Regions from separate parts of the Homo sapiens genome. Here region 2 is reported to be linked to region 1. Evidence: microRNA targets listed by miRTarBase, many of them from high-throughput screens and not tested one by one. Region 1 holds a microRNA gene; the other region holds the end of a gene's coding sequence.
What was found. Region 1 holds the annotated microRNA hsa-miR-1273c (GGCGACAAAACGAGACCCUGUC, at 2,461-2,482, opposite strand). A microRNA usually pairs through its seed, bases 2 to 8, with sites in the 3' UTR of a target mRNA and lowers its output. Matches are read on the target gene's strand: a 7mer-m8 pairs with bases 2 to 8, a 7mer-A1 pairs with bases 2 to 7 and ends in A, and an 8mer does both.

Region 1 (4,764 bases):
AATTTAAATATAGTTTGGGACAGAGAATTCTGAATCATATAATTTTAATTAAGGTAAACAGCCTATGTTATCAGCAATTGCTCTTCTAGAGTAACGCTATAAAATAGGACCTCCTGGAAATGTTCTGTACTTGTGCCGCTCAATTTGGTAGGCACTAGCTAATGTGGCTGTTGAGCATTTAAGTGTGACTGGTGTGACTGAGGAACTGAATTTTTAATTTTTTATAAATTTAAATAGCAATAGGTGACTAAAGGCTACCATACTGGACAGTACAAGTCTTGAGTAACACGTGACATCATGCTGTAAAAGGACCCTACCATTACTGTTCCGGAAACTTTCAAAAGTTAAAGAGGAGACTAGGGTTATTCATGTTGGGTGGGCAGGGAAGGGACAATAGGAGAAAAGAAATGTCCAAAGAAACCTAAATTTTACCTCCATGATTTTAGCAATGTTTCCTTCAAATCCATGGACTAGGGCTACGAATATTAAAAATAAAATAAATAAATAAAGAAGAAAGGGAAGCAGAAATCACAAAGACAGAAGGAAAGATTTCCTAAGTAATGGCCACTAAGTATTAGCAGCAGTCAACATTTATTATGCAGTCTGTTTTATGTATTGTACTAAGCACTGCACATGTATTTTCATTTGACCCTCAAAATGAGTCTTCCAGGTACTTTTTATTTCTAGTTTTATAGATGAGGATATTGAGACTTAGGAAGTTAATTTGCTGAAACAAAAATGCATCTTCTAATGAAAATCTAGCAACTAGCATCCTTTCTCTATGTTCTAGCTGTATCTTACGTACCCAATCTGTTACAGCAATTCATACATTATATTGAAATAGAATTTACTGGTTGTTTCTCACTAAAAGGTAAACTCCTTGAAGGCAGGAACTGTGTTCTGTCAATAACGTAATATCTTTCTCAATTACCTACTGTCACCAATTTTTATCAAGGCATCTGAAATATATATATTATTCAATAAGTATTTGCTGAATTGAGTATGAATTTGTTTCTACATTCCAATGATAAACATGTGGTAACACACTCTCTTTCTCTCAACCCTCAGGCATCTATATTTGAGTTTTGAAACAGGTTGAAAGTCTGTTTAAAATAGCATTTTGTAAACTATTTCAAATAATCTAGAAAGAAACTTGGAACTCTTATAATCCGATAAAAACATTTAACTTTAAGCTATTTTTTTCAGGCCCATTAATTTAAAATGTCACATTTCCCATATTTTTAGAAATATTTTAATAGAAACTTTAATACTGTGACTGAAACATTTCCTACACAAAAGTTGTGCCATATAACAACATTAACCTCTGTATGTTGATGTGTAAGCACGAAGACATACCTCTTAAGGTACTTGAGCTGAACATAGTGCCTACGTTAACTTTTAAGTAATAAAGCTTTGATGGTTTCCAATCTTTTCATCTTATTTATCAATGACACTTTTTAAAAACCTTTCACATTTTACTGAATTCTATTCTCTCCTAATGGGCACATTGCCAGTATCTACTAAGGTAGAGTGAGGCCTAGGACAAACTTAGGGAAGCCTGTCAAAAAATCAGAAAGAACCAAAGAAGGTATTCCCTCAGTCCTAATCCACAGACTTCCACCTCAACATTTCATGAAATTCAATCTATAGGCAAAATAAAAATATTCATATGAGACATGCTCTCAAGGCTCTAATATTACCAGAGATGGTATCAAATAAAACTCTTAAATACACCATGGAGCAGCTCTAGTTAAAAAATGATCTCACCTTCAGAAACAACTGTACATATGACTTCTGCTAACTGTTGTCTTAGGAGGAAACAAAATCATTATTCAGTTTAACTGCTATTTTTAAATTTGTTTCACTTTTCTTGTCACTAAGCTTATTTACAAAATTCTTTTAATCTATAGTAACATCAAAAATAAGACTTCGAATATATGAAAACTTGTGTTTGTTGGGGAAAAGATAAATGAACTACAACTAAATTTTATCACACCTATGAATCACTTGAGGATCTTTTAAAAACGCAGATCCTGATTCGGTGACTCTGGGATGGAGCCTAAGATTCTGAGCATCATAAGCTTCCAAGTGATGCTGAAGTTGCTGGTGCAAGGCTTTGTGTAGCAAGTAACTAATTTTTCCAGATTTCAGTGGTTTGATTCTTCTAGGTTTTGTTTTGAAGACAGGGTCTTGGGCTGGGTGCAGTGGCTCACGCCTGTAATCCCAGCACTTCGGGAGGCCAAGGCAGGTGGATAACCTGAGGTCAGGAGTTCAAGACCAGTCTGGCCAACATGGTGAAACCCCGTCTTCAGAGAAAAAAAGAAAAAAAAAATTAGCCAGGCATGGTGGCAAGCACCTGTGGTCCCAGCTACTTGGTACTGAGGCGGAGGTTGCAGAGAGGTGAGATCATGCACTCCAGCTTGGGCAACAGAACGAGACTCTGTCTCAGAAAAAAAAAAAGACAGGGTCTCGTTTTGTCGCCCAGGCTGCAGTGCAGAGGCGTGAACATAGCTCACTGAAGCCTTGACCTCCTGGGCTCAACTGATCTTCAAGTGATCTGCCTACCTCAGCTTCCCAAGTAGCTGGAACCACCAGGGCACACCACCATACCTGGCTAATATTTTTAGGTTTTTTGTAGAGATGGAGTCTTACGTTGTTGCTCAGGCTGGTCTCGATCTCCTGGGCTTAAGCAATCTTCCTACCTCAGCCTCCCAAAGTGCTGGGAGTGTACTGTGCCCAGTCTCTTCTCGTTTTTTAAATGTTCATTTATGCTTTCAACAAATTTTTACTAAATGTGTACTATGAGTCAGACATAAGCATTAATAAGATCTCTGTCCTCAAAGAGCTCATTTGCTTAAAATCAAAAAAGCAAACAGGTCAACAAGTAGGAGTCTATACGGTATAGATGGGGACAGCATTTCAGGGAGAAGAAACAGTCAAGCAGTAAAAGCACTCTGGAGGAACTGCTAAGGGTATCAAATTGCTGAAACACATCGTATTTACAGCAGAGATCAGATAAGAAACTGGAAAAGTAAACAGAGTTAGGTCATGATGAGTCCAGCAAGTCAGAATAAGCAGTTTAAATTTTATTTGGTAGGTTACCACAGAAATGAAGAACTTTTGGTAGGTGTGTTCAGATGTGTATTACAACATTAATGATCGTATAAACTAATAGCAGCTAACATTATTTACCCAGAAACTGTTTCAAGAGCTTTACATGTACTCAGTCACTTAACTCTACATCAACCTTATAAAATTGGTACTAACATGTTCATTCCCACTGAGAATTCTGAAGCACCAAAAAGAAAAATGATTTGCCCTCAATTCAAACTCTGGCAACGTAAGCTCCAGATGCTACGCTCTCTCTTCACCTAGGAAAATTCTGGAAAAATTACTCTGGTAAGCATTGCAGAAGTTGTGTTTGTCAGTGTTGAGCCTGGAAGATAGTTTTGAAGCCACTGGAACTGTCAACGAAGGACTGAATCAAGGCCGGGCGTAGTGGCTCACGCCTGTAATCCAACACTTTGGGAGGCCAAGGTGGGCAGATCACGAGGTCAGGAGTTCGAGACCAGCCTGGCCAACATGGTGAAACCCTATCTCTACTAAAAATACAAAAATTAGCTGGGCATGGTGGCATGCGCCTGTAATCCCAGCTACTTGGGAGGCTGAGGCAGGAGAATCGTTTGAAACTGGAAGGCAAAGGTTGCAGTGAGCCAAGATCATGCCACTGCACTCTAGCCTGGGCAACAAGAGCGAAATTCCGTCCCCCGCAAAAAACAGGACTGAACCAAGGCAAAGGCAATGGAAATGCAAATTTCAGTTATGTTTAGTGAGTAAAAATCCTAACCACTTTGTTACTAAGGGATGAGAGCAAAAGAGAATAGTTTCCTAGTCTCTAACTTGGGAGATGGAAAGAATGGGAATGTCAACCACTGGGAAAAGAGAAAACATTTTTGGCGGGAATTAGGAAGAGAAAATATAGAGATTAAGCCTGAGATACTTATAAGCTATCTAGGTAGAAAGTCAGGCAGACCTGAGTATCAATGGTGTACTCACTGGTATGTTGGTCCTAAGTGAGCTCATGTGGGCATGAACATGTGTGAACAGATGGAACCACATGGGAAGTTGTAGAATTCAAAAAAGAAACACTGACGATGGGCACAGGAGAGTGGTCTGCAAAGTCAAGGGAGTAGTTTCAAGAAAGTAGTCACTAACATTAAATCTGTGGTGCTATCAAGTAAGATAAGCAATGAAAATGGCTGCTAGATTTGGTCAATAGATCACTAGTGACTTTGGAAAGAAATTTCAATGGATTGGTGGGGTCAAAAGTCAACGACAGTGCACTAAGGAATAAAAGATGAAGAGACTGGGATAAATGAAAACACTCTTCCCAAAGATCATTCTACAAAAGAATAAACAGACCAGTAACTAGAAAAGAGAGAGGTTTTATTCTTTTTTATAAGTGAGAGATTTGAGCACATTAATAGCAACACCTGGTGTCAGTGAAGAGAGAGAGTTTTAAAAAAATACAGGAAGGCTGGGCGCGGTGGTTCACGCCTGTAATCCCAGCACTTTGGAAGGCCGAGGCAGGCGGATCACCTGAGGTCGGGAGTTCAAGACCAGCCTGACCAACATGGAGAAACCCCGTCTCTACTAAAAACACAAAATTAGCCAGGCGTGGTGGCGCATGCCTGTAATCCCAGCTACTCGGGAGGCTGAGGCAGGAGAATCACTTGAACCCAGGAGGCGGAGGTTGCAGTGAGC
Region 2 (4,000 bases), not on the chromosome of region 1:
ATACAAGAAATGATAAAGACAGGAACAGATATAAATAAATGTAATCATAGAGGTTAGTAAACACCAAAAAGAAGTTTTTGGAAAAATTTAATAAAATGGACAAATCCTTTGCAAGATTGATTAAGAAAAAAAGAGATGGGCCAAGCACAGTGGCTCATGCCTGTAATCCCAGCACTTTGGGAGGCTGAGGCAGGTAGATCACCTCAGGTCAGGGGTTTGAGACCAGCCTAGCCAGCATGGCGAAACCTCGTCTCCACAAAAAATTAAAAAAATTAGCCAGGAATGGTGGTGGGCATCTGTAATCCCAGCTACCTGGGAGGCTGAGGCAGGAGAATCTCTTGAACCTGGGAGGCAGAGATTGCAGTGAGCCAAGATCGTGCCACTGTACTCCAGCCACTCCAGCCTGGGTGACAGAGTGAGACTCCATCTCAAAAAAAAATACAATAAAATAAAGATAAAATGCAAATAATCATAACAGATACATAGACATTGCTATAGATCCTACTTATATTGAAAAGAAATACAAAGATATTGTAACAATTTTATGCCAATACATATATATTCAGAGGAAATTGACACATTCATTGAAAAATATAACTCACTGAAACCGAACAAAAGACAGAAAACATGAATAGGTTTAGATCATGAGGAAATTAAATCTGAAATTAAAATCATTTCCCAACAGAAAACACCATTCCAAGATGGCTTCACTGGTGAATTTATCTAACATTAAAGTATAATTTTACACAAATTATTTTAGATAATAAGGAGCATGAGAGCACATCACAGCTCATTTTAATGAGGCTTACATAACATTGACCCCAAACCATAGCAAGTGCATTAAGGAGGGGAAAAAAAGCTAGTATCTCTCATGAACATAGGTGCAAACGTTCTAAACAAACTATTAACAAGTCCACTCCAATAATACATACACAAGATAAAATGTGACTAAATGGAGTTTATTCCATCAAAGCAAGGTTGATTTAATTTTTAAAAATCGATATGTGTTATGTATAATATCACATTATCTCATTAAAAAGCATGTATCTAGCGGCATAACTGTGTGTATTAAGACCTAAAATATAGTATCCTGATACTTTACTACACACTTTAAAGGTGTTAACTTATTTCATCATCCCCACAATTTTCATGAAATAAGAATGATTATTTTCTCTCAGCTGCAAATACATGGCTGAAACACAAAGTAACTGGCTCTAGATCATGTAGCAATTAAGTGACAGAGCTGTGAATCCAGTTTAGATAGGCCTGACTGGAGCACTTCATTATATTGTCTTTCAGGAGTCTATACCTGATCTGGTGGTCTCTGTATTGGGGTTGCTAACCAGTGCAATAAGGTAAGAAAAAAGGTAAAGCAATTGGGAAGAAGCAAGTATTGCCATATTTTCAGCTTACATGACTATGCATATACAAAATCCAGAGGAATCTACAAATTACTAGATTTAAGAAATAAACTTATTGAGTTTACTAAACATCGTAAGACTACACACAAAACTTAACTGTATTTCTGTGTACAACAATAGAAAAGAAAAAATATTTAAAATATATTATTAAAATCACTAAAACCACCAAAACAAGATATACAAGGTTTTTAAACTAAAAATGTCAAAACATAGCAATTAAGTTAAAGAAATTCTAGTTACATGAAGCGATACATGATGAACATTGATTAGAGATTCAGTAGTAAGTTGCCAGTTCTGCATAAGTTGATTGATAGACTCAATGTGGTCCCAGTAGAAACCTCATCAGGATTTTGTAGAAATTGAGAAGCTGTTTCTAATATTTATATGGAAATCTTGACTTTAAGAAGAACAAAGCTGGACTATAGTTACAACTATAAATGTACAATAATTAAGATAGTGTACTGTTTGACACAAGCATCAACAAATAGACTAGAATAGACAGCCCAGAAACAGACACACACACATACAGTTACCTAACTTACAAAAATGCACCACCCTAGTTCAGTGGAGGAAAAATGGTCTTTCCTACATAGTGCTGTCTCAAGTGGATATCTATTCTACCAGGAATAGATAGAATGTTTATTAATAAAACTATTAGAAAAAAATGGAAAAATATCTTCATGATTTCAAAATCATGAAAAATCTCTTCATGGTTTCAAAATCATGAAAAATATCTTATGATTTTGGGATGGGCAAAAATTTCTTAAACATGACACAAAAAGCACTAATTTTGAAAGAAAATATGAATAAATAAGACTTTCTCAAAATTAGGAAATTTTGTTCATCAAAATTCAACATTAGGAGCAAGTCAAAAACTAGCAAAATATTTGTAATACACATTAAAAAGGACATATTCAGAATGTAAAAATAACTTAAAAATCAGTAAGAAAAATATTGGCTAACTAATTTAAACAAAATACAAAAATGTGAACGGGTACTTCACAAAAGAAGATACCCAAGTGCCCAATAAGCATATAAAAAAGTGTTCAACCTTATTACATGTTGGGGAAATACAGATTAAAACCATGGGGAAATATCACTTTACATCCACAGGAATAATGAAAATCAAGAGAACTGAAAACATTGACTTTTTACAAGCACATAGAGCATCTAGGACTGCCACACATTGCCGGTAGGAGCATAAATTCATACAATCACTTAGGAAAACTGGTAATATCTACTAAAGCTGAATACATGCTTTCCTCATCCTCTACCAGTTCCACTCCTGGATAGGTAGTGAAATTAGTGCACCATGTCCACCAAAAGACAAGTCCAGGAATGTTCGTGGGTTCTCTTCCTCATGGCCAAAAATTGGAAGCCACTTAAGTGCCTATTAACAATAGAATGGATGAACTGAGGAATATTAATATAAGGGAACCCTACATGGCAATGAAAAGGATGAAACTTTTGTACACATGACATGAATGAATCTCACAGACTTAATTCTGAGTAAACAAGACATACAACATTACACACAATATGATTCCAACTATACAATGTTTATAAACAGACGAAATTACTGTGCAGTCATGGAGGTCAGAATAGTATTTTCCTAGGAGTTAGTACTAGGAGGAGTTATAACGGGGCTTCTAGGGAGTCAAAAATGTCCCATATCTTAATCTAGAAAGTGAGTATATAGGTATGTATGTGTGTGAGAATTTGTGAAGCTGTTTGCTTGAGATTTGTTATTTATGTTCTTTACATGGTTTAATATCTCATTAGAAAGAAAACAGAGTTCATAGAGAAAGTTACAAAATAGATTTTCTTAATACCTGAAACTTGGTAAAAAGCTGTGGTATTAAACTGTGGTGATGTCATTAGGGGAGCCCTCTACCCAAACAGAAAGGAAGGCTCAACAGAGCACAGGTGTTTGTTGTAAATGGAAAAATAAATCCGTCTTATTTTCATACTGCAGCAAGTTAACACTATCGAAAGCATTACAGATTAATTAAACTAGATAATTAATGTAGGATGCAAAAGATAGGGCCTCATAGTATATATTAAAAATATTATATAATTAGCATGACTACTACTGCTGCTGCTAACTACTACTACTACTATTATTGCTTTGTTGGTGCTGTTAGTGATCATTTTTAGTGATTGCCCACAAAAGGAACAATACTGGATATGAGGAAATTGATATAATTTATCTTTTCAAGCATACTGTGGGCCTGTGGGTTGCAGTAAAAAGACAAGGAGGGCCTGAGTGATATGACCCTTCAGATAGGGAACTCACAGACGGCCAGATGGGAGGTGGAGCAGGGGACGTCATTCCACTGGCCATTTTTCAGTAGCAATACACAATCTTCATCAGAACCAGCATTGTTGGGTTCACCCTCGTTCCAGTTTGTGTAGGTCAGTCTATTTCCTGTCAGATCCACAAACTGCCCTTCTGTCTTCTCATCAGTGATGCCCAGGAAGGCTTCCTCCTTGATGAGATTCTGAATGGCTCCATTCTCTGCAGCATTCCTGGGGGTGGCCACAGAGGCCTGGAACTTGACACACAAGGCCTTCACTTT

Region 2: the mRNA of MBL2 is a reported target of hsa-miR-1273c. The part of its 3' UTR that is shown has no 7-base or 8-base seed match.

Annotation. Positions count from the first base shown.
Region 1 is chr6:154,851,087-154,855,850 of GRCh38, reverse strand. It overlaps MIR1273C (microRNA 1273c), which reads right to left and starts at 2,491; the gene lies at 2,415-2,491.
Region 2 is chr10:52,764,437-52,768,436 of GRCh38, forward strand. MBL2 (mannose binding lectin 2) reads right to left here. Exons shown (of 5, transcript NM_001378373.1): 5 at 944-4,000. The coding sequence ends at 3,701. Among named protein-coding and RNA genes, the nearest start is that of MBL2, 6.3 kb to the right of the region's middle.